Regions from separate parts of the Homo sapiens genome. Here regions 2, 3, 4, 5 and 6 are each linked to region 1. Evidence: fine-mapped expression QTL. A gene starts in region 1. Each other region holds a variant in brackets. All regions are shown on one strand. Distances are between the middles of the regions.

Evidence for each region. PIP is the estimated chance that this variant, and not a neighbour inherited with it, causes the effect.
Region 2: its variant is the best candidate, but not a certain one, in a credible set for the expression of ERMP1 in sun-exposed skin (GTEx, PIP 0.68).
Region 3: its variant is the best candidate, but not a certain one, in a credible set for the expression of ERMP1 in blood mononuclear cells (TOPMed, PIP 0.70).
Region 4: its variant is the best candidate, but not a certain one, in a credible set for the expression of ERMP1 in sun-exposed skin (GTEx, PIP 0.83).
Region 5: its variant is the best candidate, but not a certain one, in a credible set for the expression of ERMP1 in breast (GTEx, PIP 0.58).
Region 6: its variant is the best candidate, but not a certain one, in a credible set for the expression of ERMP1 in whole blood (TOPMed, PIP 0.72).

Annotation. Positions count from the first base shown.
Region 1 is chr9:5,830,800-5,835,876 of GRCh38, reverse strand. It overlaps ERMP1 (endoplasmic reticulum metallopeptidase 1), which reads left to right and starts at 2,760. Exons shown (of 15, transcript NM_024896.3): 1 at 2,760-3,187; 2 at 4,849-5,077. The coding sequence starts at 2,850. RefSeq lists silencers at 2,674-2,893, 2,974-3,193.
Region 2 is chr9:5,875,056-5,880,132 of GRCh38, reverse strand. It overlaps a transcript of BRD10 not described here. Among named protein-coding and RNA genes, the nearest start is that of MLANA, 13 kb to the left of the region's middle. RefSeq lists an enhancer at 11-512. The variant G/C (reference allele first, on the strand shown) is at 2,491.
Region 3 is chr9:5,682,083-5,687,159 of GRCh38, reverse strand. The region is part of intron 2 of RIC1 (RIC1 partner of RAB6A GEF complex); the gene reads right to left. Among named protein-coding and RNA genes, the nearest start is that of INCR1, 55 kb to the right of the region's middle. The variant C/T (reference allele first, on the strand shown) is at 2,749.
Region 4 is chr9:5,853,225-5,858,301 of GRCh38, reverse strand. It overlaps a transcript of ERMP1 not described here and the pseudogene AK4P4. Among named protein-coding and RNA genes, the nearest start is that of ERMP1, 23 kb to the right of the region's middle. RefSeq lists a silencer at 4,421-4,470. The variant C/A (reference allele first, on the strand shown) is at 2,093.
Region 5 is chr9:5,900,563-5,905,639 of GRCh38, reverse strand. The region is part of intron 3 of MLANA (melan-A); the gene reads right to left. It also overlaps a transcript of BRD10 not described here. Among named protein-coding and RNA genes, the nearest start is that of MLANA, 12 kb to the right of the region's middle. The variant A/G (reference allele first, on the strand shown) is at 2,346.
Region 6 is chr9:5,674,123-5,679,199 of GRCh38, reverse strand. All of the region lies in intron 2 of RIC1 (RIC1 partner of RAB6A GEF complex), which reads right to left. Among named protein-coding and RNA genes, the nearest start is that of INCR1, 47 kb to the right of the region's middle. The variant G/C (reference allele first, on the strand shown) is at 2,704.

The DNA of each region.
Region 1 (5,077 bases):
TATAGATCAAACTGGCTTTGAACACTTCAAAGACCAGACATTATCAAAGTGTTTTATAAGCCTATATGTTCTAGATGTGGTCACTGTGCTGCTCTGCCTGGGATGGAGACTGAGTGATCTTATATAACATCACCTAAAGCATGACCTTTCACTGCTCAAAACCACCCCAGAGTCCTCACCAGGGCCAGGAGGCCTTCCTTGCACTGGCTCCTACCCACCTCTGTCACCTCACATCTACCAGGGCTCCTGGCTCAGTCTGCTTTAGTGCATGCCTTATTCGACGTTGCCTCTGAACATCCCAGCTCACTTTCCTCTGCTGGAACATTCTCTCCCCAGGCTTATGTGGCCCTGTTCCTCACTTCATTCAGGTCACCTCAAATGTCATCTTCTCAGAGAGACTGTGAGACCATCTCTGATCACCCTAATAAAACAGCAGCTTTTGTCAGTCTCAATTTCCCTGCTTTATTTTTCTTTATGGCACTTAACTCTCTGACATTTTATACACACACACACATGCGCGCGCGCGTTCATTGTCTCTTTGTTAGAATGTAAGCTCTCTGAAGGTAGAAACATTGATTTGTTCTTCTCTGTTTCTCCACCTTAATCAGTATCTGACACAAGTAGATATCCAACAACTAGTAGCTAAAAATATTCAAACGTGAATACCGTAGACTATACAAGTATAGAGAAAAACTGCCTTTCAGGAACTCAGCTGTAACTTAACTCCTACCACCTAGAGTTCTATGATTATCATGATAGGAAAGTAGCTTTTAATCTAATCTACAAAGGATTTCATGAGAAGGAAAATTCTGAAAAATAGTTTTTAATGAGAATCTTATGTGAGGATCTTTCACACACACACACACACACACACACACACACACACACACACACACACATCTATCTATCCATCTATCATCTGTCTATCTATCTAATCCTCACTGAAGCCCCTTAAGGCAGGTATCATCTGCATTACCACAGATAAATACACGTGGACTCTGTGAGATTGTAACTTGAATAATGCCATGTGTACTAAAGGTACCAGATCCAGGAACTCAGATCTACCCGTCCCCAACAGCCAGGCAGCCAGGCATTTCCCTATTATGGTACCATGGGATATTGTCAGACATACACACACACACACACACACACACACACACACACACACACACATATATACATACATATAGTTATGACCATGGGCTAGGCTCTTATCCAGAGCTAAGCACTATGGATACAGTGATGATTAAATAAGATAGACACTGTCTTTAGTCTCATAGTGCTTACAGACTGAAAGGGATCTTGTAGAGCTAAAATTATGCTTGCTGCCACAAAAGTGGTATGTTTTCATTTTTTCATTCACTCAAGAAATATCTATTGACTACATACTATGTGTCATGCTTTGTGTTAAGAGCAAGGAATAAAATGGTGAGTAAAACCAGACCTGATTCCTGCCTTCGTGGGGCTTACAGTCTAATGAGGAAGTTATGAAATAGTCACATGCAAACATGGTGCTGTGAGATCCTACAAATAGGGGAAGCAAGCTTAATTAAATTAGGAGATTCTTGCTTGAGGAAGTACCACTTAATCTGAGATTTAAAGGATAACTAGGAGTTAAAAAGACAATGAGGAGAGAGAAGAACACTCCAGGTAATTCAAACAGCATGTGAGAAGATCCTATTGTAGAAGGAAAGATGCGTGCAGGAAGTCTTTGAAAGAGGCCAGTGTGGCTGGAGAGCTGGAAATAAGAAGCATCCTGGTGTCAGAGGAGCCTGAGAGGTGGGCAAGAGCAGGACTATAGGGCATTGTATGAAATCTGACATATGTGCTAAGTCAAAATCCGGCAGTGTGCTCTCCCAGTTGGTCTCTAGGTTAATGCTCATGCTAATGTAGCAACTCCAAGCTAGGGACAAAAAACCTTGGAGCAGAGAGGCTCATGGGTACCGGCAAGCTGGAAGAAGACTAGATAATCACTAGGATCTGCACTGAAACCAAGGCTCTGCTGCTTAACCGCCCCAGAGAGTCGTCAAGTGAAGAATGGCCTTTCTGAACCTTCACTTGCAGAGTGCTAATGTAGTAGTGGAACAGAATGCTGTTTTGGGAGCCCATGAAATTAGATTTACATTCTTCATCTGTTATCTCTACGTTTCTCAGGTTATAAAATGGGAACAAAGATATTTCCTTTTAAGTATTGTTAAAGATAATTAAATAAGATGATGTATTAAAGGACTTGACCTAGCGCTTAGCTCATAGCAGGTATTCAATAAATAATAGCCATTATTTTTCTTTATCTGTTAAATGGAGACAGTAATAGCACAGATTAAGTTGCTGAGTTATGAAGATCTGATTAGATTATGCATGTGAAAGCAATAGGCCGGGCCTCCTCTGCGTAATCTTATTTCTAATTTTAAGAGCCAGGAACCCACTTTTTTGGAGCCTGATGTTCTAATATTCCTTCCTTACGAAAGCCAGGTCATTGCTTTTTTCATCTGCCTGATGCACTGTAAGAGCCTTGTGTGTTCTTTCAAAAGCGATCTCTCATTTTTCTCGTTTTGGGTTTTTAGGTGTCTTTACATTTGGCAATCTCCGTCCTACAGAGGGCTGGAAAAGCCCTGCGGGAGACGGCATATCCACCACCCGCTGCTGGGTCGGCCCTGCAGCTGTGTGCACCCGAGAACTGCCAAAGAAGCTGGGTCTTGGCGCGGCGGGACGGGCCAATCAGAAGAAGTTTGGCCCTCTGCAGTTTCCGTCCGCTCACTAGGAGGCGCTGCGGCAGCGACGGCGGCGTCGGCGGCGGCCGGGGCTGTCGCGGGTTGGGGCGGTTGGGCTGGCAGCTGAGGCTCGTGGCCATGGAGTGGGGTTCTGAGTCGGCTGCTGTGAGGCGGCACCGCGTCGGAGTAGAGCGTCGAGAGGGAGCGGCGGCCGCGCCACCGCCGGAGAGGGAGGCCCGAGCGCAGGAGCCTCTGGTGGATGGGTGCAGCGGCGGCGGGAGGACGCGGAAGAGGAGCCCCGGGGGTAGCGGCGGCGCGAGCAGGGGCGCGGGGACCGGGCTGTCTGAGGTGCGCGCCGCGCTGGGGCTCGCGCTCTACCTGATCGCGCTGCGGACGCTGGTGCAGCTCTCGCTGCAGCAGCTCGTGCTACGCGGGGCCGCTGGACACCGCGGGGAGTTCGACGCGCTCCAAGCCAGGTACCGGCCGCTCCCTCCTGGCACGGCCCGCGCGTCCGTTTGCGGCTCCTGCGCAGGCTCCGGGGCACCGCACCTGTGTGCACCCGCCCCTGCCGGACCGCTGGGACTCGCTGACCCCTCCCAGGCTGCACGTGGGGTGGGGTGACCTTGCTTGTCCTTCTTCTGGGGTCTGAATTGCCGGGACTTGGGGCTTGCCTGTCCCCGGTTAAGCTCGTGGTGCAGATTGGGGTTGCCAGGTAGATTGAACCTGCTTTCCACTGTCTGCCCTTCGTGCAGATGGTTGGTTGTGAGTCGTCTCCCCATATTCTGGAACAGCTTCCCCTTTTTACCTTGCTTAGCCCTTCTGCTTTCCAGATGGAAATTTGTGTACCTAGACTGTTGTATAAATTCGCTTTGGGGGCGGGGAGTTTTGGAAGGCGCTAGTGCACTGTTCTAACTTTCTGAGGGTTACAGCCCCCACATCTGAAGGCTATAGAAACTCTTTCTGGAACACCGCCCAGTCAAAATTTGGTATGCAGTCTGATAAATTCTCAGATCCCTGCAGTTTATCTTTAGGCCCCTTGGATTAGTGACTGTGTAAGGTTTGACTTTTTTTTTTTTTTTTAAGACCTTTAAGAATGCTAGGAAAGGTGATTAAGTCAAAGATATTGTAACCCAGGTGTGTCAAAGCTCATGAAGTGTTAAGCTGGCGTCAAGTTTTCAACAGCTACTGTGTTCTAAAAAGTTTTTGCTAGAATGCAAAGTGTTGCAAGCTTATTAAGGACTTTCTGAAACGTCTCCCACCCCCACTTCCAGCTTTCCCCACTTGGAATGCAGTGAAAAGACAAAAACAGTTTTGTTTTCATTAGGGGTACAGTTGGTTTTGGCCTGAATTGAAGTTATTAGACCTTGGGTGTATGCTAGGAGGGCTAGGTCCATCAAAAGTTTCCCCCGCCCGCCTTATTTAACCTCTTGACTTGATTATTTTTGCTCATTGGTTTCTGCTACTTAAAGTCATTAACCCAGAATCTGTAACGTTCAGGAGTATGCACAGTGAAGTTATATTCTATCCTGCTTAGTCTTTAGCTTTTTTTGTTTGTTTTCTGAGACAGGGCCTGGCTCTGTCGCCCAGGCTGGAGTGCAGTGGCTCCATCTCGGGTCTGTAGCCTCCACCTCCCAGGTTCAAGCAGTCCTCCCACCTCAGCCTCTTGAGTAGCTGGGACTACAGGCGGATAGTAGTCTACATCTGGCTAGTTTTTGTAGTTTTAGAAGAGATGGGGTTTCACCATGTTGCCCAGGCTGGTCTCAAACTCCTGAGCTCAAGCAATCCACCCACCTCAGCCTCCGAAAGTCCTGGGATTACAGGCGTGAGCCACCGTGCCTGGCCAGTGGTCACACGTTTTGAATACATCCCTAGTCCTTGTATTGGTTTGATATGGGGAGAAGTTGGGAGTGGGATGGTGGAGAAAACTGAAGGGGTCAACTCGTGGGAGGCAACAATAAAAATATGGAACTTTATAAGTGATGTTCACTTGGTGTCTGAAATAATGAAAGGCGGTCCCTTTTATATAAGGCAAAGAACTAAGCTTTTTTGGGGAGGAAGGGGTGTGTAGTGGAAAAGTTACCCACGCTAAGTGTCAATTTTAACTACAAACCTTTGTTATTCTTTTGGTTACTTCCAGGGATTATCTTGAACACATAACCTCCATTGGCCCCAGGACTACAGGAAGTCCAGAAAATGAAATTCTGACCGTGCACTACCTTTTGGAACAGATTAAACTGATTGAAGTGCAAAGCAACAGCCTTCATAAGATTTCAGTAGATGTACAACGGCCCACAGGCTCTTTTAGCATTGATTTCTTGGGAGGTTTTACAAGCTATTATGACAACATCACCAATGTTGTGGTAAAG
Region 2 (5,077 bases), 44 kb before region 1:
CCTGGCCAACATGGTGAAACCCTGTCTCTACTAAAAATAAAAAAAGTTAGCTGGGCATGGTGCTGTGTGCCTGTAATCCCAGCTACTTGGGAGGTTGAAGTTGGAGAATCTCTGGAACCCGGGAGGCGGAGGTTGCAGTGAGCTGAGATCATACCACTGCACTCCAGCTTGGGAGACAGAGCGAGATTCTGTCTCAGAAAGAAGTAAGTTCTACGTAGCATTTTTGTCTTGTTACATTAAAAAATAATTCAGTAGAACTGACTTATTATCTGACAGGGAGATCCGAGCTATGGGATTTTTTAGAATTATAGTCAGAGGTCGGATAAATCCATTATCTCTGACATTCTGCAGGTAAATAAGCTAGAACCTAGAGAGGCTGACCATGTGAGTCAGATTATCTGGTTCTGTATCTCTGCATTTCCTTCCAGTGAGTCATCCCTGAGCTCATTTAATTGGTCCAGCCCAGTGTCTGCTTGTCAGTTAATTAAGAGAAGCTTCAAGGGCCCAAGCATATCTTAAAGAGCCAGCGGTGGCCACCAGACCAGTGTGGGCGGTCATCAAGGGTCAGGTTCCTTTGGGGCCGCTGGCATTGGGGATTGGGATTGGGTTGATCATGGGTCAACCAGCCCTTTAGGGATGAAAAGGAGGCAGGGTCTCAAGGGGACAATGCCTGCCAGCAGCCGGCTGTGTGGGGGCTGCAACTCCCATCAGGCTTTGATGTGTTTCTTTTTTCTCTTTTTCTTTCTCTCTTTTTTTTTTGAGACAGAGTCTTGCTCTGTTGCCCTTCCCAGGCTGGAGTGCACCATCACACCCGGATAATTTTTTTATTTTTAGTAGAGATGGGGTTTCACCATGTTGGCCAGGCTGGTCTCGAACTCCTGACCTAAAGTGATCTGCCCACCTCAGCCTCCTAAAGTGCTGGAATTACAGGTGTGAGCCACCGCACCCAGCCTGATGTGTTTCTTGATGTTTCTTTGTATTCTTCTGGAAGTCCCTCTGATGTTTAGCAAAGTCTTTGTAATATTTCAGCCAGCATCAGCTCTACTGTGAGTTTTAATGAGGCGTCAGAACAACCCTGGAAGTCAATAGATGGCAACAGCAGAGAGTAAAGTGAGAACTCCATGGGGGAGAAGAAACCCTCAGGAGAGGCAGGAGCTCTGGCATCAACCATCTCTCTGCCCAGAATCTCCTTCCAAGTTGAAGCTTCAGGAGTTTGGGTTCTTCCAGGGTACATTATTGGTCCGATAAGATTGGAAAACACTGAACTAAATAAAGTTAAACAGGTTTCTTCATTACAAACTCTTCTAACATCCTTAATCTACTGATATACCTTATGAATCTTCAAGAGAAGACAGTTGCATTGCCAGCAGAGTTTCTCGAACTATTTAATTATGAAGAAAGTGTTTGTTGGCTTTGGTGCTCCAAGAAACACTCTTTGGGCCACATCATTATGAAGAGTCATTATAGATCCCACCTCTTGTGTGATTGATGGGCCTATTCCTCGAAGTAGTTAACAAAGAGACTAAAATGTAATCCCTTTCCACAAGGAGCTCAGCCCATAAATATCTACTAAATGTATGTCTTCTTACTGAGTGCCAGAAACTGAGCAAACTGATTATTACATGGATTATTTCATATTCTTCTCAAATCCTCACAGCAGCGCTGTCAGGTAGGTGTGATTATTACACCCCTTTTACAGAGGAGAATGAGGCTCATGAGTTTAGATAATTTAGGATTACATAAGTAGTAACTGGCAAATGGCCCAACTCCCATTCTTATACATGGTGCCTCCCCAAGGGGGACACTTCTCAGGAACTAAACACAGTCCAGCATAAGATGCCTTTTAAGTATGGTTGCTCTTCCCCAGGGTCGGTTATTTATTTAGTAACATTGGTTCCAGGGACCCTCCATGTTGATTATTCCTTAATGTTCTCAGGAGCAGGGACTGACTCATTCACCTTTCCATTATCAGTAGGGACTCAATAGATATTTCTTGAATGAATAAAAGTAAATAAATAAATGAAGACACTGATTTTTAACTGGTCCTGGTGATAAATAATTTCTAACAGAGGCATTGCCCAGATCCTTTCAACTAGTCCATAACATTTCTTGAGCTCCTATGATATGCCAAGGACTGGATTCAGTAGTCACCAAAGCTTGTTGAGTTGCTGTTTCCCTTTCTGAACCTCTAATAGTCTACATCACATGAACACATGTTTTCGAAGGCAGACCTTCTTCAGACAATACATGGACAGCCTTAGGCATAAATCCCTTTCCTGTATGAATTCCTCTATAGTAAAAATCATATTGATTGCTTAGGGAGGGGGATACTGAGTTAGTGGTTAAGGGTGTGAAGGATAACTCCTCAAATTAAAGAACTGCACGAACCCTTAACACTCAAAGGCTGGGAAGCATAGAAGGTATTTAATAAGTGCTTGTTGAATGAATGATGCAGACATGCATGAGGCAAGAATGAGGCAAGCTCTGGGC[G/C]CCAAAGACAGAGAGGGAGCAGCCACCTTTTTCTTAGTAGCTTGTTGAGGAAACTGCTTGCTGGCCCCTGCCCAAGCCCATGGTGTGGCCATTGTGCATTCTGCAGGGCACATAGTCTGATATGTGGGGTGCTCACAGTAGAAGCCACCTCACACCAAGAGACTCTGCGTGGGCCTTTCCCCTGAGAGATAACTTGAATGCGATGGTAAAATAGAAGCCAGGGGTTTAAGACCAATCTCTGCAGTTTATTAGCCCCTGGATAAGTTACCTAACCATTCTGAGCCTCAGTTTGCTCAACTGAGAAATGAAGATCGTAATTTTTAATTTAGAATTCTTCTTATTTTTTTAGGTCCTTCCAGATTGCAAAGAAGAGAGGCACACAAATGGTTGCTCAGATGAGGTAGATAAGTTAATTATTAGGAAGAACAGGACAATTTCATAACTGCTTCCTGGAGACCTGGGACAAGCCCCCTCTTCATTAAGGAGATGACTGTGGCTGGAATGGCTTTGCAGGATGCCCCCTGCTTGCTCCTTCTGATGCGTCTTGTTACCTCTTTATCACTCGCACACAGTCAAAGGAGCTGGCTAGGCCAATCGTCACTATCCGGGAAAGAGTGCCCCCACTGGGCAATGTTTCTGCACCAGGTCACCTCATGTCCATAGCTCTCTTTGACTCAGGAAGGGATCCCAGGTCCCGCCAGTTGCAGTCACAGCACTCACAGAACAGCTGAGTCACCTGGAGAGAACAGCCTAAGGCTAGTTTGGCTTTGAGAGTGTATTAGTTTCCTCTGGCTGCCGTAACAAAGTAACACAAATTGGGTGGCTTAAAACAACACACATTTACTGTGTCACAGTTCTGGAGGCTAGAAGGCCACAGCGTGGTGTCAGCAGGGCCATGCTGTCTCTGAAATCTATAGGGGAGAATCCTTCCTTCTCTCCTGGCCTCTGCTGGTGCCTGGCAGTGCTGAGCATTCTATGGCTTGTGGGTGCATCACTCGAATTTGCACCTCCATTGTCACATGGCTGTCTTCTCCCTGTCTCTGTCCTCATGTGGCATTCTTCACTCTCTGTGTTTCTGTATCTTGTTATAACGACACCAGTCATATCAGATTACCTTACCCCAATAGGACCCCATCTTAATTACACCTACAACTACCCTAGTTCCAAATAAAGTCACATTCTGAGGTCCAGGGGGTTAGGACATCAACATATTTTGGTGGACACAATTCAACCCATAACAGAGGTTCACAAACTGTCCAGCACCTCTCCAGCAGAGCTGTGGTGAGTGTTACATGAGAGGCTACACATGCCTACCATGGTGTCACATAAAATAAAATTGTCTTCCTGTTCAATGGGTCTCAAAATGTAGTCCTCGACAGGCAGCAGCAACAGCCCCTAGGGACTGGTTAGAAAAACACACCCTCAGGCCCCACCCCAGACTTACTAAATCAGAAACTCAACCTTCAGTATTTTCACAAGCTCTGCAGGTAATTCCAACACAAGCTAAAGATTGAAAACCATGCAGTCTCTGACCTGGACAGAAGTACAAGCTGATAGAGAAAAGTCCCTGAAAAGTGAATCCCAACTGGGGAGCCCACCCACAGCTTCCCAGCAAAGCCATGAGAAAGATCCCACACCCAGGGCTTCTGCTCCCCCTGCCCCATGGCCCCTCTGAGCAGCCACTGCTTGCTGCCACAGACTCGCTGCTCCCTTGCTCATGGCCTCTCTTGCTGTTTCCTTTACTCCAGTTGAGAGTAAGCCTCCCTCCCTGAGATCTGTTTTTTAATTTAAAATTTTTTAGAGATAAGGTCTCACTCTGTCACCCAGGCTGGAGTGCAGTGGTGTGATCATAGCTCACTGCAACCTCAAACTTGTGGCCTCAAGCAATCCTCCGGCCTCAGCCTGCTGAGTCTCTGTGACTACAGGTATGCACCACCATGCTAGGCCTATTGGTTTTCAAAGATTTTGCAGAGAGGGGATCTCGCTATATTGTCCAGGCTGGTCTCAAACTCCTTTGCCTCAACCAACCCTCTTGTCTTGGTCTCTCAAAGTGTTGGAATCACAGGCATGAGCCACATGCCCAGCCCTTTCCTGAGATCCATACTTGGCTTGTGGCTAGATGAGACGCCATTTCATGGGCCTTTTCTCATCACAGACCTCCCTGAGCAGGTTTTGCCCTCCTCTAACTCCTCTCTCCACCCAGGGTAGGGGTGTTCCAGGCCCCACTCTCAAGCAGAAGTAACCCCCGCCAGTCCAGGCTCGACCAAGTCACTGAGCCCCTTCCTTTAGCCCTGGGGGCTCCTTCCTTCCCTTTTCCTTCAGGGCAACATCTTTCCCCCATCAACTCTGGGTCATCTTTCCTTTCCCTCTTCCAACTACGTACACTGAGGCCAGAAGCAGATGTTTTGGGAATTTATTTGTTTTGTTTGGGTGTTTTACTGTAGAGATGGGAAATTTTTCATTTTATGCTCTTCTTTTCTTCATGTGGATCTGCATACCTTACTGTGAGTGTGTGTGTGTATGTGTGTGTTTATGTTTAACCCTCAACTTGCTTTTTTCTATTCTCTCACTCAAAACAGCAGTCATC
Region 3 (5,077 bases), 150 kb after region 1:
TTAAAAGAATAATGAGGTCACATTATTAATATGACAATAATTTTAACAACTTGGATGAGATGGACAAATTCCTTGATAAACACAAACCACCAAAGTTCACTGAAAAGAAATCTGTACCCTGAAAAGCCAATGTCTGTTAAAGAAATTATAATTCCAATTCAAATCCTTTCCACAAAGAAAATTCTAGGCTGAGACAGCATCACTGGTAAATTCTACCAACTCTTTAAGAAATAAATAATATCAGTTGAATACAGACTCTTCCAGAACACCAAAGAGAAGGAACCACTTCCTATCTCATTTTATGAGGCCTCATAACAAAACCAGACAAAGACATTATAACTACAGGCCAAGATCCCTCATTAACATATTCTTTTTTTTTATTATTATACTTTAAGTTTTAGGGTACATGTGCACATTGTGCAGGTTAGTTACATATGTATACATGTGCCATACTGGTGCGCTGCACCCACTAACTCGTCATCTAGCCTTAGGTATATCTCCCAGTGCTATCCCTCCCCCCTCCCCCCACCCCACCACAGTCCCCAGAGTGTGATATTCCCCTTCATGTCTCCCTGTGATCTCATTGTTCAATTCCCACCTATGAGTGAGAATATGCGGTGTTTGGTTTTTTGTTCTTGTGATAGTTTACTGAGAATGATGATTTCCAATTTCATCCATGTCTCTACAAAGGACATGAACTCATCATTTTTTATGGCTGCATACTATTCCATGGTGTATATGTGCCACATTTTCTTAATCCAGTCTATCATTGTTGGACATTTGGGTTGGTTTCAAGTCTTTGCTATTGTGAATAGTGCCACAATAAACATACGTGTGCATGTGTCTTTATAGCGGCATGATTTATAGTCATTTGGGTATATACCCAGTAATGGGATGGCTGGGTCAAATGGTATTTCTAGTTCTAGATCCCTGAGGAATCGCCACACTGACTTCCACAATGGTTGAACTAGTTTACAGTCCCACCAACAGTGTAAAACTGTTCCTATTTCTCCACATCCTCTCCAGCACCTGTTGTTTCCTGACTTTTTAATGATTGCCATTCTAACTGGTGTGAGATGATATCTCATAGTGGCTTTGATTTGCATTTCTCTGATGGCCAGTGATGATGAGCATTTTTTCATGTGTTTTTTGGCTGCATAAATGTCTTCTTTTCAGAAGTGTCTGTTCATGTCCTTCGCCCACTTTTTGATGGGTTTGTTTGTTTTTTTCTTGTAAATTTGTTTGAGTTCATTGTAGATTCTGGATATTAGCCCTTTGTCAGATGAGTAGGTTGCAAAAATTTTCTCCCATGTTGTAGGTTGCCTGTTCACTCTGATGGTAGTTTCTTTTGCTGTGCAGAAGCTCTTTAGTTGAATTACATCCCATTTGTCAATTTTGGCTTTTGTTGCCATTGCTTTTGGTGTTTTAGACATGAAGTCCTTGCCCATGCCTATGTCCTGAATGGTAATGCCTAGGTTTTCTTCTAGGGTTTTTATGGTTTTAGGTCTAACATTTAAATCTTTAATCCATCTTGAATTGATTTTTGTATAAGGTGTAAGGAAGGCATCCAGTTTCAGCTTTCTACATATGGCTAGCCAGTTTTCCCAGCACCATTTATTAAATAGGGAATCCTTTCCCCATTGCTTGTTTTTCTCAGGTTTGTCAAAGATCAGATAGTTGTAGGTATGTGGCGTTATTTCTGAGGGCTCTGTTCTGTTCCATTGATCTATATCTCTGTTTTGGTACCAGTACCATGCTGTTTTGGTTACTGTAGCCTTGTAGTATAGTTGAAGTCAGGTAGTGTGATGCCTCCAGCTTTGTTCTTTTGGCTTAGGATTGACTTGGCGATGCGGGCTCTTTTTTGGTTCCATATGAACTTTAAAGTAGTTTTTTCCAATTCTGTGAAGAAACTCATTGGTAGCTTGATGGGGATGGCATTGAATCTGTAAATCACCTTGGGCAGTATGGCCATTTTCACGATATTGATTCTTCCTACCCATGAGCATGGAATGTTCTTCCATTTGTTTGTATCCTCTTTTATTTCCTTGAGCAGTGGTTTGTAGTTCTCCTTCCCTCATTAACATATTCTAAACAAAATTATAGCAAATTAAATTCAACCTTATAAAAAAAAAACATCACAACCAAATGAGGTTTATCCAAGAATGCAGGGTTGGGGTTTAACAAAATTAAATACATGTAATTTACCTTATTAACAAACTAAAAAAGGAAAACCATGACAGTCTGAATACATTGCATTAAAAGCATTAGACAAAATTCAACATCCATTCCTGATTAAAAATTCTCAGTAAATTAGGAAGAAATGGGAAACTTCCATATCTGGATGAAAGAGATTTATAAAATATTTATAACATCATTCTTAATGGTAAAAGACTGAATGCCTTCATCATATTCAACACTGTCTAGACTCTAGGCAGTAAATTCAGACAAGAAAAAGAAAAGGTATATAAATTGGGGAGAAAAAGTAAAACTGTTTTTGATATGGTCATTTGCATAGGACTCCTAATGGAATTAACTATAATAAGTGAGTTTAGTATGACTGCTGGACACAAGACAAATATAGAAAAATCAACTGCATTTTTACATACTAATAAGAACAATTAGAAAATGAAAAAAATCAGTAACATTAAAGTTGTGAGATATGGATAAATCTGGCAAAAGAGATGAAATACTTGTACACTGATAACTAGAAAACAGTGCTGAAAGTAAAAATACTTCAATGGAGAAATA[C/T]ATCTTGTTTATATTGCTAAGATAGCAACTCTCCCCAAATGGATCCAAAGATTCAATGTAATCCCAATCAAACTCCCAGCAGACATTTCTGTATAAATTGATGAGATGGCGGGGGGGGGGGGGGGGGGGGGGGGGGGTGGAGCCAAGATGGCCAAATAGGAACAGCTCCAGTCTACAGCTCCCAGCATGAGCAACACAGAAGACGGGTGATTTCTGCATTTACAACTGAGATGCCGGGTTCATCTCACCGGGGTGTGCCGGACAGTGGGTGCAGCGCACTGTGCGTGAGCTGAAGCAGGGCAAGGCATCACCTCACCTGGGAAGCGCAAGGGGTCAGGGAATTCCCTTTCCTAGTCAAAGAAAGGGGTGACAGACGGCACCAGGAAAATCGAGTCACTCCCACCCTAATACTGTGCTCTTCCAACAGGGTTAACAAATGGCATACCAGGAGATTATATCCCGCACCTGGCTCGGAGGGTCCTATGCCCACGGAGCCTCGCTCATTGCTAGCACAGCAGTCTGAGATCAAACTGCAAGGTGGCAGCGAGGCTGGGGGAGGGGCGCCCGCCATTCCCGAGGCTTGAGTAGGTAAACAAAGCAGCCGGGAAGTTGAACTGGGTGGAGCCCACCACAGCTCAAGGAGGCCCGCCTTCCTCAGCAGTCTCCACCTCTGGGGGCAGGGCACAGACAAACAAAAGGCAGCAGTAACCTCTGCAGACTTAAATGTCCCTGTCTGACAGCTTTGAAGAGGGTAGTGGCTCTCCCAGCACACAGCTTGAGATCTGAGAACCGGCAGACTGCCTCCTCAAGTGGGTCCCTGACCCCTGAGTAGCATAACTGAGGGGCACCCCCCAGTAGGGACAGACTGACACTTCACACGGCCGGGTACTCCTCTGAGACAAAACTTCCAGAGCAACGATCAGGCAGCAGCATTTGAGGTTCACCAATATCCACTGTTCTGCAGCCACTGCTGCTGATACCCAGGCAAACAGCGTCTGGAGTGGACCTCCAGCAAACTCCAACAGACCTGCAGCTGAGGGTCCTGACTGTTAGAGGGAAAACTAACAATCAGAAAGGACATCCACACCAAAAACCCACCTGTACGTCACCATCATCAAAGACCAAAGGTAGATAAAACCACAAAGACGGGGAAAAAACAGAGCAGAAAAACCGGAAACTCTAAAAATCAGAGTGCCTCTTCTCCTCCAAAGGAACGCAGCTCCTCACAAACAATGTAACAAAGCTTGATGGAAAATGACTTTGACGAGTTGAAAGAAGGCTTCAGAAAATCAAATTACTCTGTGCGAACCAATGGCAAAGAAGTTAAAAACCTTGAAAAAAAATTAGACGAATGGCTAACTAGAATAACCAATGGAGAGAAGTCCTTAAAGGACCTGATGGAGCTGAAACCCATGGCACGAGAACTACGTGACGAATGCGCAAGCCTCAGTAGCCGATGCGATCAACTGGAAGAAAGGGTATCAGCGATGGAAGATGAAATGAATGAAATGAAGCGAGAAGAGAAGTGTAGAGAAAAAAGAATAAAAAGAAACGAACAAAGCCTCCAAGAAATATAGGACTATGTGAAAAGACAAAATCTATGTCTGATTGGTGTACCTGACCTGAAAGTGACGGGGAGAATGGAACCAAGTTGGAAAACACTCTGCAGGATATTATCCAGGAGAACTTCCCCAATCTAGCAAGGCAGGCCAACATTCAAATTCAGGAAATACAGAGAACGCCACAAAGATACTCCTTGAGAAGAGCAACTCCAAGACACATAATTGTCAGATTCAGCAAAGTTGAAATGAAGGAAAAAATGTTAAGGGCAGCCACAGAGAAAGGTCGGGTTACCCACAAAGAGAAGCCCATCAGACTAACAGCCGATCTCTTGGCAGAAACTCGACAAGCCAGAAGAGAGTGAGGGCCAATATTCAACATTCTTAAAGAAAAGAATTTTCAACCCAGAATTTCATATCCAGCCAAACTAAGCTTCATAAGTGAAAGAGAAATAAAATCCTTTACAGACAGGCAAATGCTGAGAGATTTTGTCCCCACCAGGCCTGCCTTAAAAGAGCTCCTGAAAGAAGCACTAAACGTGGAAAGGAAAAACTGGTACCAGCCACTGCAAAAACATGCCAAATTGTAAAGACCATCAAGGCTAGGAAGAAACTGCATCAACTAACAAGCAAAATAACCAGCTAACATCATAATGACAGGATCAAATTCACACATAACAATATTAACCTTAAATGTAAATGGGCTAAATGCTCCAATTAAAAGACACAGACTGGCAAATTGGATAAAGACTCAAGACCCATCAGTGTGC
Region 4 (5,077 bases), 22 kb before region 1:
ACTGGGACTAGTAATATAATCATATTTTTGCAAATACTTGCCTTCATCTCTCATCATTTTTACTTCCCCAATCTGGGTTCCAGGCACTGACTCAGAGCCCTTCAAACCATACTCTTTCTTGCCTCCAGAAAGCTCTTGCTGACTATTCTGTGGCCATGCTCACTGCCCTACTTGTTCCCCTGATGAGTGAATGCTCCTATGAGAGCACTAACCTTCCTTCAATGAGGTCTTTCAACCACTTCCCTTTCTTCTGCTCTGGTCTGTAAGTTATGCCAGGACAAAGATTTGTCTTGGGACCTGCCACATCCTGGGCACCTGAAAAAGAGTCTGGAATATAGGAGGTGCTCAAATATGTGTCAGTTGACTATCAGCTCTTCTTTCTGGACTGTGAGCCCTTAGAGAATGGGGTCGACATCTTCTAATATTTTTAAGCCTCTACTAGACACCTCACAGAACATAGCTTATTGCTAGGTGCTTAGTAAACACTTGATGAACAAAAGAATGAGTGAATGAATGTCTTATAAAATAGGCAGATCCCTAGGGATCCCAGTCAAGGCTACAGATAACGTGGGATGATATGCTGAATATTTTCTAGATCCCCTGCAGATCCACTGTCCACCCTTGCTTACCCTGTTTGGTACTCAGGAAGTTGACCTTTATAAGATGGTATTGACAGGTTATTCTGACCTCTGGTTGGGTTCAGTCAATGGGATGTACCAATAGATTATAAGTAGGGAGAAGAGTGAAGTCTAGGTATAGTAGATGCTCATCATTTGCAGATTCTATATTTGCAAATTCGTCTACTCACTAAAATCTATTTGTAATCCCCAAATCAATTTTCATGGCACTTTTGTGGTCATTGAGACACACGCAGAGTTGTAAAAATTTTGAGTTGCTGGATGTGCACGTGCCCAGCCGAGGCAAACAAAGTGACACAGACTCTGCCTTCTTATTTCAGCTCTCATATTGAAAAAAATTTCGGCCATGCACAGTGGCTCATGCCTGTAATCCCAGCACTTTGGGAGGCCAAGGCAGGAGGATCCCTTGAGCTCAGGGGTTTGAGACCAGCCTGGGCAACACAGCAAAACCCCATCTCTACAAAAAATACAAAAATTAGCCAGGCATGATTGCACAGGTCTGTAGTCCCGGCTACTTGGGAGTCTGAGGTGGGAGGATGGCTTGAGCCCAGGGAAATCAAGGCTGCAATGAGCTATAATTGTGCCACTGCACTCCAGCTTGGGTGACAGAGTAAGACCCTGTCTCCAAATGAAAAAAAAGAAAAAAAAGTCATGGTCCATTTAATGTCATGTTTTCCACATGGTTTTCATTGATGATTTCAATGTTTAAAATGGCCCCCAAGACTGGTCATAAAGTTACTGAAGTGTCCTTAAGCCCAAGAAGGCTGTAATGTGCCTTGCAAAGAAAATTCCATGTATACGTTTTGTTCAGGCATGAGTTACAGTGCTGTTGGGCGTGAGTTCAAAATTAGTGAATCAACAATATATATTAAATAAAGTGTCCCCAAATCAGAAACACACATAAAACAAGGTTATGTATTGATTGGTGAAAATGTGACCAGAGACTCGCCAGACCTGACCCTGTATTTCCTTTAGGAGCAATGGTTCAGTATTTGCTAATTCAGTGTTTGCTGTGACTTTATGGAATGTGACTACTGGCACAGGGCTGAGTTAGTCCCCGCACAGGGCTAAGGGGAGGGGTTGTCTTAAAAGTCTCTCCTTCCCTGAGTAGGAGAGTAACCAGAGTACCAGAGCCAGCAGAGAGGGTGCCAGAGGTTGGGGCCAAGAAACAAAGTTCTTGGTGCTCCCTCTGGTCGTCTTGGCTGCGCCTTTGGCCACCCCACTCCTCCCAAAGGCAATGGCTTCCAAACTCCTGCACATGGTCATCCTCCGGCCGCTCCTCTTGGCCCAGAAGTTTGGCCTCCAGCATCTCTCCAATGGCCATTTCTTGCGGGAGAACACCAAGGCCAACACCGAAGTTACTGACATGGCAAAACAATAAACAGAGAACAGTCTTTCGGTTCCAGACCATGTGATCACACACCTAATGGTGTCAGAGTTGGAGAACAGGTATG[C/A]CCAGCACTGGCTCCCAGATGGTTTTCTGAGGACTTTAGGACAAACCAATGCCCTGATTTGAAGACAAAATATATGAAGTGGATTTAGTGATCTGTTTGAAGATTCCATTCGAAACACTTAAAGATTGTCTCAGCCGACGTTGGATTCACCCTCCTTGCAGCAGGGTATATAACCTGGGCTTCAATCCACCTGGTGTACATGGGATTGATGACATCTCTGGAGAACCATTAGTCCAGCAGGAAGATGATAAATCGAAGCAGTTGCTGCCAGGATAAGACAGTACAAGGTTGTGGCAAAGCCAGTCATTTAATTATGCAAGAGCCCAGGCTTGCTCCACCATTTTTCTGGGATGGAGACTGATAAAATCTGGCCCTAAGTCTACATATTTTTCTTAACAAGATCACACCTATTCAGTCCAAAGAAGAATCAGGAAGATTCTTCACTTGTTCAATTGTGTGTGTAGTATTGGGGCTATGTCCAAATTAGAAGCTAGCTGAGATAGCTTGCAGCATCTTTCTAGCTTAAATGGTGAACTCTTAGGAAAACTAATGAGCAGAAAGAGCTCATGAAGTGTCCTTTAAAAAGAAGGGCCCCCTGCACATATTTAAGGTATCTCTGCACATGTCTCAATACCTCCACAAGAAAGCAACTCAGGCTGGATTTCAAACAGCATACAGTCTAAGCTCTAGGTGATTTTTGACAGTTGTGTTGTTGCTATAGTATCCTTTTTACAAGTGATGGTGGTGGTCTTTGGTTCTCCTCATCCCCTCAAAGGCTGTTGAATCACAGCACCAGTAAGCCTGAGAATGCTAAGGGCTCTAGCCCAGGCTTTCTCCCAGATTCTCTGGTATGTGCCCTCCTGGTGACAATGAAATTGGCTAATTGCTCTCAGTGGTCTGGAGTGACTATGTCCACAGTTCATCTTTCACAGTAGGAATCACTCCTTTTTTGCTTCATCCATACTCCATAGAGTCTCTCCTTTTCAGACATCCTAGGAGGAAAGGATTTAGCTTCTATTTTTTTAGACTATATATTTTTGACATCTGTTTTTTCTTAGGCTATTACATTTAAGTTATTAAATAATACAGATAATTACTGCTTTTATCTCTCTCAAATTTTTCTTTCTAAGAACTGAGAACAAGAAGATTGCTTTGAATCTCTTCATGCACTGGGAACTGAGCTATGAAAGAGGGTGTTATTAAACTGCTGGTCTGAACTCTCATGGATTGATGTTTCCCCTTTCTGTTACTGCGAAAAGATTCAACCCCTAAAAGTTTTTTGGCAACCCCCAAAGTCTTTTGGGAATCCTCAAAAAACATGGGAAATATTAACCTACATAAATGTTGAAAGATCCTGTCTTATGTATAGAAGTAATAAGACCAGGCCGGGTGTGGTGGCTCACACCTGTAATCCCAGCACTTTGGGAGGCTGAGGAGAGTGGATTACCTGAGGTCAGGAGTTCTAGACCAGCCTGGGCAACATGGCAAAACCCCATATCTACCAAAAATATGAAAGATTAGCCAGGCATGGTGACGCACGCCTGTAGTCCCAGCTACAGGCTGAGGCACAAGAATTACTTAAACCAGGAGGTGAAGGTTATAGTGAGTGGAGATCACACCACTGCACTCCAGCCTGGGCGACACAGTGAAACTGTGACTCAGAAAAAAGTATAAGACCATATGGAACTACTGACTAATAAATAGTTAAACTTTTTGTTCAAGACAGCAAAATGTATTTTGAAAATTCTGCTACCTCTTGATGCTGACAGTGTTTTTCTCCCGTGAGTGACCCAAGCATATTATAAATAATTGATAAAGGGAATGGAGCTGGTTGGGTGGAGCAAAAGGTTGCACTAGCTATGCCTAGACTGAATAGAAGAGTGTTATGATGATGAGAAAGCAAAATCTTTATTTTTTTTCTATTCCAAAGATTCACTCTGATTCAGCCTGACTAGTACTGACAGTTTATGGAAAATCTCAGCTGTTCTCTTTCTAGCACCTAGATACAGATATGAGCATGGCCCCTTCTCCTCCTCCAGATCCCCAGTAAAACTTCACCCACAGCAGCTTCTTTCTCCCCACTGGAGAAAGAGTGGGGAGCCCAAACCCCTTTCTTTTATCTAATCACCTGGCCACAATTTATCCCCCTTTGTTAAAATGATATATAAGCTCCAGGTCTAACTGCTTCTTTGGCTCTTCACTTCTTTTCTGTGAAGCCCCCATTTATGTAAAAATATTAACATCCATAAAATGAATGCCTTTTCCTCTGTTCATCTGTCTTTTGTCAGTTTAAAGCCTGTCTGGAAGACAGAGAGTCTCACCACCCTAGAGCAGTGCTACTCAGGGTGTCTCTGACCAGAAGCAAGGCTACATCTAGAGAGCGTGTTAGAATTGCAAATTACTGGGCATTCTAGATCTACTAAATCTGAAATTCTGTGGGCAAAGACCTGGGATCTGTTTTCATAAGCCTTCTGGGTGATTCTAACACATGCTCGAGTTTGAGTACCACTTCCTGGAGAGATGGGCAGGGGGTAGTGGGAGGGTAGGCACGGAGCACTTGTTTAGGACCCTTGCCAGGCTCTCTAACTCCCATCTGCCTGGCTTTCCATGATTTCCTGGTCCTTGTTTCTCCAGGCCAAACCACATTTAGGAACATACACAATCTGGAGTGCAGAATTCTTTGAACTTTATCTAGGTGGCTGTTTCTTAACCAACAGAGCATAGTTTCTTACAGGATATGTATGGCTCTTCTGGGAGATCAACACTGAAACCCCAGGGCATCTCTGAGCACAGCAACAGGACAAGAGAGAATTTAAGTGACATGGTGAAGGGGATCAGGTTATACCACCCCAAAGTATGCCACCTTGGCATATGATTATTTTGGGCTGAAAGCAATGGAGAAATAGCAGTTGTAAGAAGAGCTCTCTGCCCTTTCCTTTTCTGCCTAGAAGCAGGACATAAATTTCCCTTTGTGAAGGTGGCATA
Region 5 (5,077 bases), 70 kb before region 1:
CAGCTCTGTCTTAAGACTTGAAGTCAGTATAAAGGAATGCTTAAGGTAAGGGAGTCTGCAATCTGTCATGTGATGCTATACCAGAGTCAGTTTGGAAAGTATACCACATTATATGGGGTTAATTAAAAAAAAATTTTTTTATGGTTTGAAGGGCATGATTTAACCCTTTCCTTGCATTGTCTTGTTCCTAATTTGATATTGCCACAAAGAGTTCATTCTGTCAGTCCTGTAATCTCTATTTTAAAATTAATGCTGGTCAGTTGTACCTAAAACTCTAAAAGGGAGGGAGTATAATGAGGCATCTCTCACCTCCCTTCCCGTCATGGCCAACACTCAGTTTTTCAGGTTTCCCTGGGGTCCCCTTGGTGAAGAGGGGGTCCATTCAGTTGTTTGGAGGATTTAGGATTTTGTTTTTAGTTTACAGGAGGAAGGAATTAGGATTATTTTAAGATACTCATAATGCCTATGAAATGGTATAGTGTTATTTGAAAGTGGATTTGAATTAGTTGTAAATGTATGTTGCAAACTCTAGGGAAACCACTGAAAAAAAGTAAAAAAGAAGTATAAGGCCGGGCACGGTGGCTCACACCTGTAATCGCAGCACTTTGGGAGGTCAAGGCGTGTGGATCACGAGGTCAGGAGATTGAGACCATCCTGGCTAACACAGTGAAATGACATCTCTACTATAAATACAAAAAATTAGCCAGGCATGGTAGCGGGCACCTGTAGTCCCAGCTACTTGGGAGGCTGAGTCAGGAGAATGGCATGAACCCAGGAGGCAGAGCTTGCAGTGAGCCCAGATCATACCACTGCACTCCAGCCTGGGCAACGGAGTGAGACTCCGTCTCAAAAAAAAAAAAAAAGAAGTGTAACTGGACTGGGCGCGGTGGCTCACGCCTGTAATCCTAGCACTTTGGGAGGCCAAGTGGGTGGATCACTTGAGGTCGAGTTCCAGCCTGGCCAACATGATGAAACCCCGTCTCTACTAAAAATACAAAAATTAGATGAGCATAGTAGTATGCACCTTTAATCTCAGCTACTCAGGAGGCTGAGACAGGAGAATCACTTGAACCTGGGAGGCAGAGGTGGCAGTGAGCTGAGATCGTGCCACTGCACTCCAGCCTGGGCGACAGAGTGAGTGAGATTCTGTCTCAAAAAGAAAAAAGTATAACTGATATGCCAAGAAAGGAGAGAAAATGGAATCATATAAAATGTCCAGTGAAAATCACAAAAGGCAGAAAAAGAGTAAAGACAAAAATAGAAACAAAGAACAGAGGCAACAGGTAGAAAACAGTAACAATATGGTAGATATCAATCCAACTATATCAATAACTACTTTGAATATCAATGGTCTAAATGCACCAATTAAAAGACAGATTGTCAGAGTGGATCAACAAACAAGACCCAACTATGTGTTCTCTACAAGAAACCCTCTTTAAATATAAAGACACATACATGTACATTAAAAGTAAGTGGATAGAGGCCAGGCATGGTGGCTCACACCTGTAATCCCAAGCACTTTGGGAGACCAAGGCAGGCGGATTGCCTGAGCTCAGGAGTTCAAGACCAGCCTGGGCAACATGGTGAAACCCCATCTCTGCTAAAAATACAAAACTTAGCCAGGCTTGGTGGCGCACACCTGTAATACCAGCTACTTGGGAGGCTGAGGCAGGAGAATCACTTGAACCCAGGAAGTGGAGGTTGCAGTGAGCTGAGATCACACCACTGCACTCCAGTCTAGGTGACACAGCGAGACTCTGTCTCAAAAAAAAAAAAGTAAGTGCATAGAAAAAGATATACCATGCTAACACTAATGAAAAGAAAGTAGGAGTTCCTATATTAGTTTCAGAAGGAGATTTCAAGGAAAGTTATCAGGGATAAAGAGGGATATTACATAACGATAAAGGTGTTCATTCTCCAAGAAGACATAAGAACACCTAACATTGCATGTACCTAAGAACACAGCATCAAAATACATGAGATAAAAACTGATAGAACTGCAAGGAAAAATAGTTGCATCCACTATGAAGTTGGAGTTACAGTTGGAGGCTTCAACATCTCTCTATCAGAAATAACACAAAGCCAGCAGGTAAAAAATCAGTAAGGACTAACTCATTGTATGAGGCCAACATTACCCTAATATCAAAAACAAAGATATTACAAGAAAAGAAAATGACAATTCGTTATCTCTCATAAATATAGATGCAAAAAAACTCAACAACATATTAGCAAATCAAACCTAACAATATATAAAAGGAATTATATACTGTGACAGAGTGGAACTCAACAAAATCTTCGATTAACTAGATATAATAGACATCTGTAGGCTACTTCATCCAACGACA[A/G]CAGAATACACTTTCTTCTCAAGCTCAGAACATTAACCAGGATAAACCACATTCTGGGCCACAAAACACATCTTAACAAATTTAAAAGAATAGAAATTATACCATGTTTGCACTTAGACTATAATAGAATTAAAGCAGAAATCAATACAGAAAGATAACTGAAAAATTCCCAACACTTGGAGATTAAACAACACACTTCTACATAACACATGAGTCAAAGGAGAAATCTCAGGAGAAATTTAAATATATTTTGAATTAAATGAAATTAAAATATGATATCAGAATTTGTGGGATACTGCTTAGCAGTGCAAGCAGTATTTAGAGGGAAATGTATGACATTGAATGTGTATATTAGAGAAGAAGAAAGATCTAAAATCAGTCATCTAAGCTTTCACCTTAGGAAAATAAAGAGAACAGCAAATTAAATCCAAAGTAAGCGGAAAAATAAAAATTAGAGCAGAAATCAATGAAATTGAAAACAAGAAATCAGCAGAGCACAATGGCTCATGCCTATAATGCCAGTACTTTGGGAGGGCAAGGCAGGAGGACTGCTTGAAGCCAGGAGTTTGAGACCAACCAGAGCAACATAGTGAGACTCTGTCTCTACAAATTAAAAAAAAAAAAAAGAAAATTAATCAGACCTGGAGGCACATGCTATAATCCTAGCTACTATGGTAGCTAGCTGTAGTCCTAGCTACTCAGGAGGCTGAGCCAGGAGGATTGGAGTGCTTGAGCCCAGGAGTTCAAGGTAACAGTGAGCTATGATTGTGCCACTGCACTCCAGTCTGGATGACAGAATGAGACCCTGTCTCTAGAAAAAAAAAAGGAAAGAAAGAAAGAAAAAAAAGTCAGTAGAGTAAATCAATGAAACCAAATGCTGATTCTGGGAAAAGATCAATAAAATTGATAAGCCTTTAGCTAGGCTAAGAAATAAAAAGGCACAAACTACTATTATCAGAAATAATAATGGACATGAAAAGGATAAGCAAGGAATACTATGAACTATGCTCACAAATTTGAAAACCTAGGTGAATGTAACAATTCTTTGAAAGACACAATCTGTCAAAATCCACGCAAGAAGAACTAGACCATCTGAAGAGATTTATATCTATTATAAAAATTGAATCAATAATAACTTTCCAAAACAGAAAGCACCAGACCCAGATGAGTTCAGTGGTGAGTTCTACCAAACATTTAAGAAAGATATTATACCAATTCTCTATAACCTCTTTCAGAAGATAGAAGCAAAGGGAATACTTTGTAACTCATTGCTATGAGGCCAGCATTACCCTAATACCAGACAGATATTGCAAAAAGAGAAAACTACAGCTCAATATCACTCATGAATACAGATGCAAAAAATCTCAACAAAATATTAGCAAGTCAAACTAACAATGTATAAAAGGAATTACATACCATGACAAAATAGGATTTATGCCAGGTATGCAAACCTGGTTCAATATTGAGAAATCAGGCCAGGCGTGGTGGCTCACGCCTGTAATCCCAGCACTTTGGGAGGCTGAGGCAGGTGGATTGCTTGTGCTCAGGAGTTTGAGACCAGCCTGGGCAACATGGTGAAACCCCATCTCTACCGAAAATACAAAAAAATTTAGCCAGGCGTGGTGGCTTACACCTGTGGTCCCAGCTACTTGGAAGGCTGGGGTGGGAGGATCACCTGAGCCTGGGAGGTGAAGGTTACAGTAAGCTGAGATTGAGCCACTGCACTCCAGCCTGGGTGACAGAATGAGACCCCATCTCAAAAAAAAAGAAAAAGAGAAATGAATTATTCTGATACATCAATAGACTAAAGAAGAAATTTGCAAGATTGTATCAATAGATGTAGAAAAAGCATTTGACAAAATCAAACACCCATTCATAATTTAAAACTCTCAATAAACGAGGGATAAAGGGAAACTTACTCAAGTTTGCTGAAGAATATCTAGGTACAAAAAATCAACAGTTAACATCATACTTGAAGCTTTTCTGCTAAGATCAGGAACAAGGCAAGGATGTCCTGTCTCACCACTCCTTTTCAGCATCATACTGGAAGTTGCAAATAACTAATGCAATAAACTGGAAAAGGATATAAAAGGTGTACTGATTGGGAAAAAAAAATAAAACTGCCCTTGTCAATTACCATTTTTTTCTTTTTCTTTTTTTTTTAAGCCTCTCACTCACCATAGGTTAAGAGTATGATCCACTCTACCGGTTCACTGCCAGTTCTCTGTATTTACATTAAAACTGGGTGTACATTTTAAAATATAGATTCCTGAATCCCACCACCAGAGATGATCCCAGAATCTGCCTTTTAGCAAGAACCCCAAAGTATTCCAGTGCAGGTGACCACTGACCATGCATTGAAAAACACAGTGCCCTGACACATGAGTGTAAACTGAGCTGAGAGCAAGGGCCATGAAATTCTCCAAGAATCAAAAGTATTTTGTCCTTGAACTTCCAAGTGAAGATGTAAAACTGGTTAATATAAAAACCACTGTTCAGTTTATTACAAATCATTTCCCACTTCCTGTTGCTACAAAAAGCAGCCTTTCCTTTCAAAAGATGTTTTCCAGGGCTCAGGGGAATTGTTAACCAAGGGAGAAATTTTAAGAGATCTAAATTCCAACCAGCCTCTCTGTGGACAAATGGAAGTTGAAAAGTAGACATTTCAAGCTTAATGAAGATTGTTAAAGGTGGAGTAATTCACATGCCCAAAGCTCATATTTAATGTCATT
Region 6 (5,077 bases), 160 kb after region 1:
ACCAATGGAACAGAACAGAGCCCTCAGAAATAATGCCACATATCTACAACTATCTGATCTTGGACAAACCTGACAAAAACAAGAAATGGGGAAAGGATTCCCTATTTAATAAATGGTGCTGGGAAAACTGGCTAGCCATATGTAGAAAGCTGAAACTGGATCCCTTCCTTATACCTTATACAAAAATTAATTCAAGATGGATTAAAGACTTAAATGTTAGACCTAAAACCATAAAAACCCTAGAAGAAAACCTAGGCAATACCATTCAGGACATAGGCATGGGCAAGGACTTCATGTCTAAAACACCAAAAGCAATGGCAACAAAAGCCAAAATTGACAAATGGGATCTAATTCAACTAAAGAGCTTCTGCACAGCAAAAGAAACTACCATCAGAGTGAACAGGCAACCTACAGAATGGGAAAAAATTTTTGCAACCTACTCATCTGACAAAGGGCTAATATCCAGAATCTACAATGAACTCAAACAAATTTACAAGAAAAAAACAACCCCATCAAAAAGTGGGCGAAAGATACAAACAGACACTTCTCAAAAGAAGACATTTATGCAGCCAAAAAACACATGAAAAAATGCTCATCATCACTGGCCATCAGAGAAATGCAAATCAAAGCCACTATGAGATATCATCTCACACCAGTTAGAATGGCAATCATTAAAAAGTCAGGAAACAACAGGTGCTGGAGAGGATGTGGAGAAATAGGAACAGTTTTACACTGTTGGTGGGACTGTAAACTAGTTCAACCATTGTGGAAGTCAGTGTGGCGATTCCTCAGGGATCTAGAACTAGAAATACCATTTGACCCAGCCATCCCATTACTGGGTATATACCCAAATGACTATAAATCATGCTGCTATAAAGACACATGCACACGTATGTTTACTGCGGCACTATTCACAATAGCAAACACTTGAAACCAAGCCAAATGTCCAACAATGATAGACTGGATTAAGAAAATGTGGCACATATATACCATGGAATACTATGCAGCCATAAAAAAGGATGAGTTCATGTCCTTTGTAGGGACATGGATGAAGCTGGAAACCATCATTCTCAGCAAACTATCCCAAGGACAAAAAAACAAACACCGCATGTTCTCACTCATAGGTGGGAATTGAACAATGAGAACACATGGACACAGGAAGGGGAACATCACACACTGGGGACTGTTGTGGGGTGGGGGCAGGGGGGAGGGATAGCATTAGGAGATATACCTAATGCTAAATGAGTTAATGGGTGCATCACACTAACATGGCACATGTATACATATGTAACAAACCTACACATTGTGCACATGTACCCTAAAACTTAAAGTATAATAATAATAAAATTTAAAAAAAAAGAGTAAACATGGTGAGAAAAATGTTTGTTCAGTGGAAGTTTTTTCAAAACAATGTAGTTTTAATTTACATATAATGCTATAAGTAAAAATAACCCTTATATCTATGCTCTAATTCTTTTCCTGTGTTTTAATGTTTACAAAAAAAAATTGAGATGAACATAAAATATGGAAATACAAAGGCCTACAATAGCAAAAGCAACTTTGAAAATGAACAAAGTTGGAGACCTAACACTGTGTGATTTCAAAAATTATTATATATCTAGAGTAATCAAAATGATGTTAAATATATACAAATAGATCATGGAACAGAATGAAGTATATAGAAGTAAACCCACACATATGTAGACAACTGATTTTTGACAAAGGTGCAAAAGATATGCTGTGTAGAAGGGATAATCTTTTCAACCAATTGTACTGGAACAGATATCAAGATGCAAAATATGAACTTAACAACAAGAAATCAAGGATCCCATCTAAAAAAATGGGCAAAAGATTTGAACACACATTTTACCAAATAAGACACACACATAACAAATAAACAAATGAGAAAAATGTTCAACATCATTAGTTATTAGAAAAATGCAAGTTAAAATTATAATGAGATATCACTACACCACTACCAGAATGACTAAAATTAAAAAGGCATACCCTACCACATGTTGGCAAAGATAGAGGAAAATAGAAATTCTCATACACTGCTAGCGGGAATGTAAAATGGTATAACTACTTCAGAAAAGTTTCACATTTCCTTTAAAAGTCAAATATACTTCTACCATATAATGTAGCTGTTCCACTCATGGATATTTACCCAACAGAAAAGGAAATACGCATCCATACAAAGACTTGTACATCAATGTTCATGTAGTTTTGTTTGTTACAGCCCCAAACGGGAAACAAGTCAAACTGTCCATCAACAGATGAATGGATAAACCAACTGTGAGAAATCCGTAAACTAATACTCATAATGAATTACTGATTCACGACAAAATGGATGAATCTCAAAATATGCTGAGAGAAACTAGAAAAAATAAGTATACAGTGTATGACTTAATTTATATAAAACCAGAAAACACAAAGTAATTGGCAGTGACAAAAAGCAGATCAGTCGTTGGTTTTGAGAGAGGTGGGGATTCTTAAAACAGTAGAGCAATTTTTTTCTTTAAACCCCATTAAAAAAGTGCCAGTGAGATTTCTTTTTAAGATACAAATTGATAAGGAGATGCCTATGGCTCTAATAATGATGCAGAAATAGAGCTTTCAAAATATTACTAACATTTCATTATTAGCCATGTATTCTTGAGCAGGTTACTTAACCTCTCTGTACCCTAGTTTGCTCAACTGTAT[G/C]ATGGGAATATAAAAGTATCTACCTTGAGAGGATTGTTATGAATAACAAATTAATTTTAATACACATAAAGCACTACAACAGTGCCTAGAACATAGACACCTCCCAAAATTTACTATTATAATTATACAATTTAATCTTCAAGTACACCGTTAATTCATATTCAATATATTTCATACAAGGATAAAAAACTATAGAATACATTTGAGGAAAAGAATCATTAAATTAGTAACGTTTCAGAATCTGATAAAGCTTTGGTTACCTAGAAAGTTTGCTTATCCAGGCCAGGTGCAGTGGCTCACATCTGTAATCCCAGCACTTTGGGAGTCTGAGGTGGGCGTATCACTTAAGTCCAGGAGATTGAGACCAGCCTGGGCAACACAGCAAGACCTCGTCTTTCGTTAGCTTTACAAAGGTGGTTTAGTTTTGGGGAAGGGCCATTATCATTTAAACTATAAATTTCTCCTAAAGTTAGCATGGCCTAGGCCCAGGAATGACCAAGGGCAGTTGGGAGGTTAAAGGCAAGATGGGGGTTAGATTAGATTTCTTTTACTGTCATAATTTTCTCATTGTTATTTTTGCAAAGGTGGTTTCAAGATCAATAATTTACCACTGACTGCAAATGTGCTGTATGCATATTATGAATAGCATAATTTTTATATTCAGTATATAATTAAAACTCTTCCTCATCTTTCAAAGGAAGAAGAGTTTAGTGAAAGTTTAAGCAACTGGTACATTAGTTTTTACATATGATTCCTCCATGTTATTTGTAGGCCATTTTGTATGTACATTTTTCCCCCCTAAAATTCCCACTAGACAGTACAGAGGGAACAGTCTGATAGCTTTATTTTTATATCAGAAATAATTTCACATTAATTTATTAAGTGACTACCTTTTATATTACGCTAAATATTAAGACAACAAAGAAGTTAGAAGAAATTATACTTGTCGTAAGTTGAAGAAATAAAGTACATAAAGAGTAACAAAATAATTTAATATTTTTGGCCACTGAAAATCTAATTTTTATTTCACTTATTTATTACTTATAGTTGTTAGATAGGAGTTCTAAGTTTCTCTTCAAAGAATCGATATGTCAGTAAGTTCAATTCTTTGCCTTCTACTTTTAAACTTAACTTCCTCATAAAGCAATCTTTTTAGATTACCTCCTCCACCCTGACTCATTCCGATTACCTACTCCACCCTGACTCGTTCCCATTACCTGCTCATTCTCCACCCTGACTCATTCCAATTTCCTGCTCTGCCATAACCATTTTTCCCGCCAAACCACTCGCCCAGTCACTCTCTTTAAATTAGCCAATCGGAATTAGTTTAGCCTGTGCGGTCTAACCCTAGCCAAGAGGGGAACGACACAGCAGCAGGGGCCACGTGCGTCAGGGATAAGAACCCCTTCCCCTCCCTTGTCCAAGTGTGCGCTCACCATTGCTCCATCTGTAAGGGCGCACCCCTCTATAGAAGTACACTGCCTTGCTGAGAATTAAAAAGAAAATTTTATATTTGAGTGCTATTTCTTTTGTGGCACCAACACTTTATTTAGAACATAGTTGTAAACCAAGAAGTATCTGAGACAGGTCTCAATCAATTTAGAAGTTTATTTTGCCAAGGTTAAGCATATGCCCGGAACAAAAAAACAGAATCACAGTGACAGTCTGTGATCTGTGCCTTTCTCCAAAGATGAATTTGAGGGCTTCAATCTTTAAAGGGGAAAAGTGGGCTGGAGGGGAGAGAAGGAGGGTATGGTAATCCACAAGTTCCAAGAGAAAAGAGCAGGTAGGGGAATAGTCAATTATGTATTCGTCTGGCATCATTAAACAGGCACTTTACATAAGATATGGTGAACATAAGTAGCTACTTGTGGAGTAGGTAACCTAACCTTTTATCTGTAGTTATCAGCTCAGGAACAAAAGGAAAGGCAGTTTCTTGCATGACTGGGCTTTCAGCTTATTTTTTCCCTTTTGGAGTGGTGAATTGGGGTCCTGAGTTTTTATTATCCTTTCACCACCGTCTTATTTCTAGAACTTTGTGGAGATGTTAAGATAAATATAATATTAGTCATAGTAATCTGGCTTATATTAAATATATTGAGTAAATGCTGACCTGCTTCTAGTAATTTAATTCATCCTTACTTGGGCTATTTAAAACATGAATTAACATTTTAGCTTATATGAATTTTAAAATTCATACAGGATCATAAATGAATTTTTGTTAAATTTTTTTTTTATGAATGACAAATTTCTCCATGTTCAATGAAGAAAACCCAAGAAACACAGAAAGTAACAAAAATAAACTGCCAATAGTTTCACCATTCACAGATAATCATTATCAATTTTTATGTAGTCCTTATGTCTTTTCCAGGGA